3 linked regions of the Homo sapiens genome follow. The protein of the gene in region 3 purifies or fractionates together with the protein of the main gene of each other region. This does not show direct contact. Each region holds a gene or a part of one and is shown on either strand. Other genes may lie near its edges.

Region 1 (3,659 bases), on a different chromosome or scaffold from region 3:
AGCCAGAGAGTTAGATAAGCAGGAAAGAGTGGGGTGATATTGGAAATAGGAACACACTTTTTGAGCCACAGGGCCAGTCACTCTGTTGGGATTCTTTCATTTAATCCTCACAACAATCCTATGAGGTAGACGTTATCATTTCTCCATGCAACAGAGGAGGAAACCAAGACTCATAAGCCTCTACATGGTGGGGCCAGTGTGGCTCCCAGGCCCATGCTAGCCCTAACTATCTCCCAGGAGTCTTCAAACAGTTTCCTGGGCTACAGGAGCATTTGTAGGTGATTTTATACACACACACACAGACACACACAAACACATATACACACATATATACTTTTTTTGGTCAAAAACATTGAGTAACCTCCATTCAGCCTTAAACTGTTATCATGGCAACAGAATGGCAGTTTGCATTTGTGCTGAGAATTTTCTGACTCCATTTCGGCAAGGTATTATGCTAGGGTCAGCCAAGCAAAGATGCATCTGAAATTTACACACCCAAGCTGGAAAGCAGATGTCTCCTAAGAGAGGTCTGAGAAGGTGATGTGGTTTTCAGAGCTGGGGAAGCATCTAAGCAAGCGGAGGGAAGGACAAGGGGATGGCTTCTGTCTGAGTTATTTCCACAGCACCTTCCATACCTTTTCCATGAGTCAGACGGGCCATGCATTACTCAAAAGTATCTAGTTAAATCCTATTTAAAATAAAGGGCACAAGGCCAGTGCCCAGTGCTTGATATATTTTAAAATATGTGGAATGAATTAATGAATGTAAAAAACACCCAAGACAAACACAGGCTGCACATAACCTTATTTTAAGGTTTGTCTTTAAATCTCCTTTTGGGGAAAAGCATCAAAGGGCAGTTCAGGAAATGCCAAAGCATTAAGATGCATTCAGTTCCACTGTCAGAAAGACCTTCTGATGTACTTCCAAGAGAACATTACAAACAAACCTCACATCTATTCAAACACAAAAATGCATGTCCTCTTGTTCACCTCATTCATCCTTAATCCAAGACACTCTCCTTTCACCTGGACAAGTACCTATCAGCATTTGCTGTTTTAAAAACTGGCAACACCAGATAAGAAAGATGATCAGAAACACTGAGCGTCTCCTTGCTGGGTAAGGTAAATACCTTAGAAAGGTTAAAATGACTCATGCATTTCAAAATTCAAATTTTGAATCAATTAATTTGGACTTTTTCAAAAGAGGGATGCTTTATACTCTGTATCTTGCCTATGGCTATAATTTTGGTCATAAAGTTATGAATTAAATCGTTCTGTGTGTTCACATATACCCCAAAGTCCATATACAATGATTTTTCCATAAAAATCGTAAAATCATCTCTAAAATCCTACATACAGTAAAGACAAGACAGCAACTATTACTGAATGCTGTAAGGGTTATGAGAAAAGCAACAGCACCACAAATGGCTAACCTTGGGCATAAGTACAGGAGGCAGAAAGATTGTGTCCAAGATTTTCAAGAACCATAGAAAATCAAATTGAATGATTCCAGGTTTATACTTGGTCGACAAAAGAGCAACACTGATGCTAATCTATGTACAAAAATAATTTCATTCTCCCAGTTTATAAACATAAGCTTGAAAGAAATAACTTTCACAGTAATAAAAAAATAAAAGAAGTAACTGCTCTATGTGGTACAAACTAAAAAGGAATTCTCACCATTTATGTTTGAAGGCTTTAGAATGAAACCATGAGGAAGCTATCAGGAAGGCCATGCTAAAATTATCAAGAAATGCTCACTGCATCCTAAATTTTTCTTACCATTTTTTCTTCTTTGGCAGGTGGACTTCGAAGAAAAAAGCAGAGAGGGGCAAAAAGAATATCAATTATCCCAATAATTGTCATGAGCCATGGAAATCCAATTGCCTTTGCAATAGCACCACCAGCAGAAGGACCTTTCAGGAAACAGAGAATTAGATAAAGCTCTTCCAAATGTCTTGTAGACTGAAAGATGCAAAGATTTAAACAATTTTAGTAGACGTTATCCATTACGTATTGAGGTAAAAGGTTCTTATGAAAAGCCAATGTCCTTACCTATAGCATACCCCATACAAAATGCCACATCCGCAATGGCGTACACACTCCCATAGACGGACACGTGCCGCAGGTCTACGAGGTAGCCCATGATAGGCATCATTGACGAATCCACCATTCCTGAAGACAGTCAGGGAACACAGTGTATAGAAAACGGATGTAAACCCAAAATGGGCCGAATATCAGGGAGTGTGTCTTAAACTCACCACCCTGCCAGCTCTTCCCCTTCTGTCATCACCACCTGCAAGTCTTGGGGTGATACTAATCTTTGAGTAGAAAGAATGAAGGAAGCCTTTTCTGACCCCCAGAGGAGGTCAGGTTCCCCTCGTATACAGATGTTCTCTCACAGCATCATCTCAATTGTCATTCATTCTTCAATTCTTTGCTAAATGCCCAACTCTTCTGTTGGTTTTGTTCACCCATATCCCCAGCACTTGTACATATTAGGAAGCAGCAAGCACCATTTCAATGAAAGAAACTTTCCTCATGTGCCTGCCACTGACACATGTGGAGGGGAGGGCACCAACCTCTGAGTCCCTGCCAGTGTGTTCACAGACACTGGCTCACAGCAGCCAATCATGAGCATCCCCATTTTATAGATGAGGAAACCAATACTCAGAGAGGCGAGGCTTGACCACACTCACTGAGCCAGGGAGTCTGAGCCAGGAACTCTGAACACACACCATCTTTATGCTACCTGCTCCCCACTATTCAAGAGACGAGATTCTAATGCTGGTCGTGGTTGTTGCTGGGGTGTATGTCTGTATGTATATGTGTGTATTTATGAGTATGTATGTATATGTATATATGTATCTGTGTATGTCTATGTATATGTGTGTATGCATGTGTGTATGTGTATTATGTATATGTATATATGTATCTGTGTATGTATGTGTATATATGTGTGTACATGTGTTTGCATGTGTATGTGTCTGTGTATATGTGTTTGTGTATGTACTTGTATTTGTGTATGTGTGTGTATGTGTATGTGTGTAGGTGTGTGTGTATGTGTGTATATGTATGTGTGTATGTGTGCATATGTATGTGGGTGGGTGTTTGTATGTGTATGTGTATCTACGTGTATGTATGTATGCATATGTGTGTATGTATATTTGTGTATGTGTATGTGTTTATGTGGGGGGTGTATGTGTGTATGTGTGTGTGTATGCGTGTGTCAGTGTGTGTATGTGTGTTTGTGTGTATGAATGTGTGTGTTTGTGTATGAGTGTGTATGTGTATGTATGTGTGTGCATGTGTGTTTTAGCTTCTTTTAGTTCACACACATACACACAACACACACATACACACTCATACACACAACACACACATACATGGATACACATGCATACACACACACACACACATAAACATACATACACACACATAATTTCTGAGCAGGGCCAGATGATCTCTCGGACTCCTTGGAGTTCTGGGGCGTTCTGGTCCCCCCTATTATTCTCCACCTTGGAAACACCCATAGTCTAAGCGTGTGGCCCAGGTGTGACTGGCAGGAGGTGGGTCAGGCATGCAGGTGTGCTGAGTGGTGAGGGACAAGTGAACCAGAAAACAGCAAAGCAGGGAAGCACCAAAAGGATGCAGGCCAGG
Region 2 (3,659 bases), on a different chromosome or scaffold from region 3:
CTCCCTAACCTGAGGTCAGGAGTTCGAGACCCGTCTGGCCAGCATGGTGTAACCCCGTCTCTACTAAAAATACAAAAATTAGCTGGGCATGGTGCCGCATGCCTGTAGTCCCAGCTACTTGGGAGGCTGAGGCAAGAGATTCACTTGAATCTGGGAGATAGAGGCTGCAGTGAGCCGAGATCGTGCCACTGCATTCCAGCCTGGGTGACAGAGTATGACCCTCAAAAAAAAAAAAAAAAGAATAAACTCCATGAAGAAAAAAATCTATACAGTAGTAGTAAAGGGAAGCAATACAAAGGAAAAAGAAAAAAAAAGACAAAGCAATCACTGGAATTTCCCAGGGCTGTTTTATTAAGAAACCCCAGCAATCAAATATTTTATTATACTACACTGGTATTTTCAGAAGGAAGCACACTGGCATACATGCCACCAAACAGCAGTCACTAAAAAAGGCATGTTTGATGTGGAGTGTGGAAACTTGAATAAAGAAGAAAAACAAATAATAGGAAAAAATAATTAAAAACTGAAAAAAATTTTAAATAATTTAAAAAGCATGTTATAGCCGGGTACGGTGGCTCATGCCTGTAATCCCAGCACTTTGGGAGGCCAAGGCGGGCAGATCATGAGGTCAGGAGATTGAGACCATCCTGGCTAACACGGTGAAACCCTGTCTCTACTAAAAATACAAAAAATTTGCCGGATGTGGTGGCAAACGCCTGTAGTCCCAGCTACTCGGGAGGCTGAGGCAGGGGAATGGCATGAACCCGGGAAGTGGAGCTTGCAGTGAGCTGAGATCATGCCATTGCACTCCAGCCTGGGCGACAGAGCGAGACTCCGTCTCAAAAAAAAAAAAGCATGTTATATTTTTATGTATACACACATGCTAAAGAGCAGCTGCTTAATAGATATTCACACTTAAAAGAGATGAAACCCTGAAATGTCTGTTTAAAAAAGATCATTTACAGTGTACACTGAGGTTAGGAGTCATTCTAGTTCAAATACGCCAGACATTGGTATTAAAATAACCAAATCTTCCCTGTCTTATCCTCTCATAAAGAGTTCAGGACCAAGGTGGTAGGAGTGCTTGAGACCAGGAGTTCAAGACCAGCCTGGACAAAGTAGCAAGACCCCATCTCTACAAAATATCCACATAAAAAAATTAGTCAGATGTGGTGGTGTGCACCTGTAGTACTAGCTACTAGGCAGGCAGGCTGAGGCAGGAGGATCCCTTGAGCCCAAACGTTTGAGGCTGCAGTGAGCTATGATTGCACCACTGAGTTCTAGGCTGGGTGACAGAGTGAGACACTCTTATTTAAAAAAAAATAAAAGACGGATGGACAGACAAACGGAAGGAAGGAAGGAAGGAAGGAAGGAAGGAAGGAAGGAAGGCAGGCAGGCAGGCAGGCAGGCAGGCAGGAAGGCAGGAAGGCAGGCAGGCAGGCAGGCAGGCGAAAGAGCCACCATGCTATATCATAACTACCTGTCTATGGGCCTGTCTCATTTGTATATCTCTAGTGCCTAGCACATAGTAGGTATTTAATAAACGTTGAATGAATGAACTACTACTTAGATCAGTCTACTACTCAGTGCTATTATTATTATTATTATTATTATTATTATTATTATTATCATTTTCGAGACAGGGTCTTGCTCTTGTCACCCAGGCTGGAGTGCAATAGCGCAATCTCAGCTCACTGCAACCTCCGCCTCCCAGGTTCAAGCAATTCTCTTGCCGCAGCCTCCCGAGTAGCTGGGATTACAGGCATGCGCCACCACGCCGGCTAATTTTTTGTATTTTTAGTAGAGATGGGGTTTTACCATGTTGGCCAGGCTGGTCTCAAACCCGACCTCAGGTGATCTACCCGCCTTGGCCTCCTAAAGTGCTGGGATTACAGGTGTGAGCCACCGTACCCAGCCTCAGTGCTATTATTTTACATAATTTTATCTAATCCTCATAACTACCCTGTGGGAAAGCTACCATTATCCTTATTTTACAAAGTAGGAAACTAAGAATCCGAGTGGCACACGAACAATCAATCTCTTTCACTTCCTCTTCCAGACATAAGCTCTAACCTCATTTTGCCTTGGCTAATGCTTTTTTTTTTGAGACAGAGTCTCACCCTGTCACCCAGGCTGGAGTGCAGTGGTGCAATCTCGGCTCACTGGCCTCACTGGCCTACCAGGTTCAAGTGGTTCTCCTGCCTCAGCCTCCCGAGTAGCTGGGATTACAGGTGCCCATCACCATGCCCGGCTAATTTTTGTATTTTTAACAGAGAAAGTATTTCACCATGTTGGCCAAGCAGGTTTTGAACTCCTGACCTCAGGGGATCTGCCCACTTTGGCCTCTCAAAGTGCTGGGATTACAGGCGTGAGCCACCACGCCCGGCCTGCCCTGGCTAATTCTTACTCTTCCAGTCTCAGCTTTAATGTCACTTCTTCAGGAAACTACTTCCCTATGCCAAAAACCAGGGCAGGTTCCTCATCACGCAGAATAAAATCCACACATCCTACCATGGCCTCCAGGCTCATGTGTACCTCTCCCCTAGATCACTCTGCTCCAGCCATAGGGGCCTCCATAGACATGGGAACATGAAGATGCTCCCACTCAGGGACTTTGCACTTCCTGTTCCTCTGCCTGTGATATTCTTCCCTAGACCCTCAAATGCCTGGCTCATTCATTAAGTCCACTCACATATTAACTCTTCAGAGTCTCTCTCCACAGTAATTTCCAATTCCATTACTCTTGGTTCCAATACTGTTTTATTTTCTCATCAATTTATCCCATTTTTAAATTACTTGTGCATTCAGGTGTTTAGAAGCTAGCTGTCCATTACCACTAGAATGAATACTCCACAAAGGTCGGGGCTTAGTCCCGCTCACTGCCTCAGCCTGTGTCTAGAAGTGCCCACCCGGTATATAAAAGACACCTGAAGAGTATTTGTTGAATGAGTAAGAGACAGAAGGCATGTGTTGCGAAGTCATCCAGTAAGCTTAATGTCACTCATTTAAGTCAATGAATGTATATTGGCAGATTTTAAGTCAAAATAAAGTTTCAGGTGCATACTCCTTTTGTGTGATGTTCTGCTTTAACTTATCTTTTCATCCAACATCTTCTAGTCTAGATCCCATCAGCGAGGAAGGCTTCTAATATGACTAGCCCAGAAGTTACACTGCACTCGACAGCAGTGAGGACTGGCTATTCCCAAGTTCTGCTCTAAACTACATGCCTTGCTAAGCTGCTGACACAAAGTCTAGAGTATTTGAGTTATAATTTGTGGATAATTATCATAGAAGTATCAAACCCAAGAAATGCCCAAATTTCTGAGGCTTTAGCAAAGCACTTCCTGTCCACTTGCTCATTTGCAGCATCTACTTGAAAGCCAGAATGATCAGTCATCAAAATATTGTGTTTTTAACACAATATAAAAATCATATTTAGACAATTTTTGATGTAAAACTCAGATTAGCCGAGCACAGTGGCAAGCATCTGTAGTCTTAGCTACTTTGGAGGCTGAAACGGGAAGATGGCTTGAGCCCAGGAGTTGGAGGCTATCGTGCACTATGTTTGCACTGGTGAATAGCCACTGTACTCCAGCCAGGGCAACACAATGAGACCTTATCTCAAAAAAAAAAAAAAAAAAAAAAAACTCGGATTATCA
Region 3 (3,659 bases):
AAGGGTAGAGTTATCCCCCAACTGTTGATGATTACATACTATCCATTAAAAGTGACTCAGGACAAACTGCAAAGAACTTTTTAGTACATCAAATAATTTAAATGGCAGCAAACAAAACACTGAATTCATCAGAATCATGTAAAAACTTCTTTCTTAAATCTAAAGCAGCAAAAGCAGTTGAAAAATAAAAAACTTTCAATAGAAAATATCACATTTTTAAAGTGCCAACCGAAAATTAGAAAGTTAAAAAATTAATTTTAAAAATAAAAACTAAAACAATACTTTGGGAAAGACATATGAAATAGAACAAAAGATTAATACATGTATATATAATAAAATTTACTCATTAAAAACCACTGGAAAAATATTAAGACGCCAATAGTAATGGACAAAAACATGTATGGATGATTCATATAAAGCAATATAGAAACAGTGAACAAATCAGAAAAAATGTTCAAACGATAAAAAAAATTAAGTAAAAATTGAAACAACAGGACACCATCAAAATCACTGATGAGATTATGATAAAACTGATAAATTCATATACTACTGGTGATACTATGAACTAATATTATATTTTAGAAAATATAACAATAATTATCAAGAACCATGAAGAAATTAGCATCCTTCGATGTAATAATCTTACTCTTGGAAATCCATGTAAGAAATTCATCCTAAAGACATAATATTTAATAATCTTTAAAGTTACATGCAAGAATAGGTTCACTATAGTGTTACCTAAAAAAGGATAACTGAAAATAACCTAAACATTCATCTAAGTTTGAAAAGTGAAGTACATTATGAAGTCAACTGAAAAACAACTATGCTTGGGCTTAAAAAGATACTGATAAAGAATGGTTAACAGTATTGGAAATATGTTTCTGTCAAGTGAAAAAGTGGACTCTAGTATATATATTAGTGACATAAAATGTTCAAATATGGTATTGACTGGATGTCTGTGTCCTCCCAAAATTCCTAAGCTAAAACTCTAATCCCCAATGTGATGATATTTGGAGATGGAGCCTTTAGAAGGTGATTAGGTCATGAGGGTAGACTCTCACGATAGGATTAGTGCCCTTGGAAAAAAAGACAGGGGAGGGCTTGCTTCTTTGTGTCTCTCCCACCTTCCCCACCCCACCCCACCCCACCACCCCATCCCCACACAAAGTAGACAGTGCATAAATATTTCCTAAATGAATAGCCAGTGCTTAAAAAGCACTGGTTGAATGGATGAATGGTGCTTAAATAAAAGATTCTAAGTAATAACACTGTAACAAGTATACAACATACCCTCTACAAATGACAGTTCCCTTCGCCTTTCACAAAATTTAATGCCCTCATTCTAGGATTTTCCAGTCCTTAATTTTGACCATTACAATCTTTTGGCCATTTTATTATATCTCATTAAGTCTAATTCACATCTAATCATACTATTAAATGCTTATTTTATCCTTTGCTCTCACTTTCATGCAAATTTGTTGGTAAATGAGTATAGAAAATTTTATAAATGAAAATAAAATGGAATACCTTCTTACTGGTCATAGGATGGTCTAAGTGAAGAGTGCTTGTTCATACCACGTAACTCTCCTGAAAATCAATATGAACCTACCTCCAAGACCAAGGTCTTTGAGAACATGATAACCACCCGGCTGCAGGAATTCTCCAACTATTCTGTCAGGCTCTTTTAAGTCTCTCTCAATGACTGTCACCTTTCTTCCATCTCTGGAAAGCACAGCTGCCAAAGCAGAGCCAAGCACGCCAGCTCCCACGATGATAACTTCTGGGTCATTCTGAGAAGATGTTGATGTACAGGCAGCTGTTCCTATTAAGCTTGTTTCTGAAATATTGGTTCCTTTTCTGCGCTGTTTAAAAAAAAAAAGGTAAACTAGGTATCCAAATTTGTTAGATTCAAATCATGCTACCGCTATGTGGACACACTGGACTTTTGCATCCTAGGCTAAAGCTAGATACTAAATATTATCAAACCAAACAAATTGTTACATTTTAAAATCTAGATAATATATAAAAATCAATGATATCAAAATATTCGTTAAATAAAAGTGTGTCATATTATCCCAATAAAATTAAATATTTATTGTTTTCTAAACATGATATTTGGAAAATGTTATACAGACATATTTAGAAATCCACACTGGGCCGAATATAATAAATGTTTATAAGGGGCTTCAAAGACTTATTATAGGGCAAACTGTATCATTAATAACTAAATTCTTCAAATATATCCTGGGAATCGACAAGATGCAAATCACTTACAACTTCTGATTTGAGTTCATGTTACAAACTATTCGGCACCTTTTAGACATTTTCTTTTTTTTGTTTGTTTTTTTGTTTGTTTGTTTGAGACTGAGTTTCACTCTTGTTGCCCAGGCTGGAGTGCAATGGCGCAATCTCGGATCACTGCAACGTCCGCCTCCTGGATTCAAGCAATTCTCTGGCCTCAGCCTCCCGAGTGGCTGGGATTATAGGCATGTGCAACCATGCCCGGCTAATTTTGTATTTTTAGTAGAGACTGGGCTTCTCCATGTTGGTCAGGCTGGTCTTGAACTCCCGACCTCAGGTGATCCTCCTGCCTCAGCCTCCCAAAGTGCTGGGATTACAGGCGTGAGCCACTGCGTGCGGCCTTAGATATTTTCATTATTCATCTTTATTTTCTCTTTCTGGATTTTCATTTGAAAAATCTATGTTAATTTAATATCACTTTTATATGACAAAAGGATTGTCAAATCCTGCCTACCAATCTATTAATTGAAGATTATCTAAATAAACAAAATTACAAGAGAAGAAATAACTCATACCGACTCTTAGATTTGACTTGTTTACAATTTTGGTCCTTAACATATAAGCACATATTTAATTTATCCCTCCTTTTTCCCCATCCTGATACTCTAAGAGATCCTAGTCAAAGAGGTGGTCCCCAAAAAAGGAACAAGGAAAAACATTAAACCTGTCACTGGCTGAACTGACAGCAAAACTTTAACTTTGATCATAAAAAGATGCAAAGTCTTGTTTTGAGAGATTTATGACCACTAAGAACAACAGTGCACAGTGGCTTTTTAAAATGAACAATTCAATTTTGTAGTATTTCTTCTTGGTAGATGGATTCACACATTTGAATACATTTCAGATACAGAATTGCAAGGAACCACCTTCCTTGAGTTCTTTGACCTTAATGATTAAGATAAGACTAAATGCCATTTGAAGGGGTTTTTAAAAAATAATCAAGCAAAAAGGAAGACGAAGCCTAAAATCCTTTAGAACTTTACTCTGTGATTCTAATATCCACCCAGCATTCTTTTACCTCTATAGTGGACTGGGAATTTGTCTATTCTTTTTTTTTTTTTAATTTCTCTCAGAAAAATACTTTTCTGTCCTTTTACTATGGGAAGATCTCAATATTCTACTCTTCCCATTAGTATGTCTTAATGGCCAGAACTGACTATATTTAAATTACTGTAGGGGGCAAGACAAGCCCCTTTTGTCATCTTAACCAAAAATGTGCTTCTTCATAAGTTTTTCCTGTTTTATATACACACACACACACACACACACACACACACACACACACACCCTGAAAGGAGAGCTCTGGAGGAAAACAGGCCTTGCAGAGCCTGATCAGTAGAGTAAGCACTAATGGGAAC

Evidence for each region.
Region 1: the proteins of SQLE (region 3) and SLC18A2 purify together in Homo sapiens (co-immunoprecipitation; one large-scale study listed by IntAct). This does not show direct contact.
Region 2: the proteins of SQLE (region 3) and GPR107 purify together in Homo sapiens (co-immunoprecipitation; one large-scale study listed by IntAct). This does not show direct contact.

Annotation. Positions count from the first base shown.
Region 1 is NC_000010.11:117,268,586-117,272,244, reverse strand, and holds part of SLC18A2 (synaptic vesicular amine transporter), read right to left. Parts: intron 2,175-3,659; coding exon 2,055-2,174; intron 1,916-2,054; coding exon 1,782-1,915; intron 1-1,781. UniProt on the Homo sapiens protein: Electrogenic antiporter that exchanges one cationic monoamine with two intravesicular protons across the membrane of secretory and synaptic vesicles.
Region 2 is NC_000009.12:130,060,391-130,064,049, reverse strand, and holds part of GPR107 (protein GPR107 isoform 3 precursor), read right to left. Parts: intron 1-3,659. UniProt on the Homo sapiens protein: Has been proposed to act as a receptor for neuronostatin, a peptide derived from the somatostatin/SST precursor.
Region 3 is NC_000008.11:125,001,379-125,005,037, reverse strand, and holds part of SQLE (squalene monooxygenase), read right to left. Parts: intron 1,863-3,659; coding exon 1,610-1,862; intron 1-1,609. UniProt on the Homo sapiens protein: Catalyzes the stereospecific oxidation of squalene to (S)-2,3-epoxysqualene, and is considered to be a rate-limiting enzyme in steroid biosynthesis.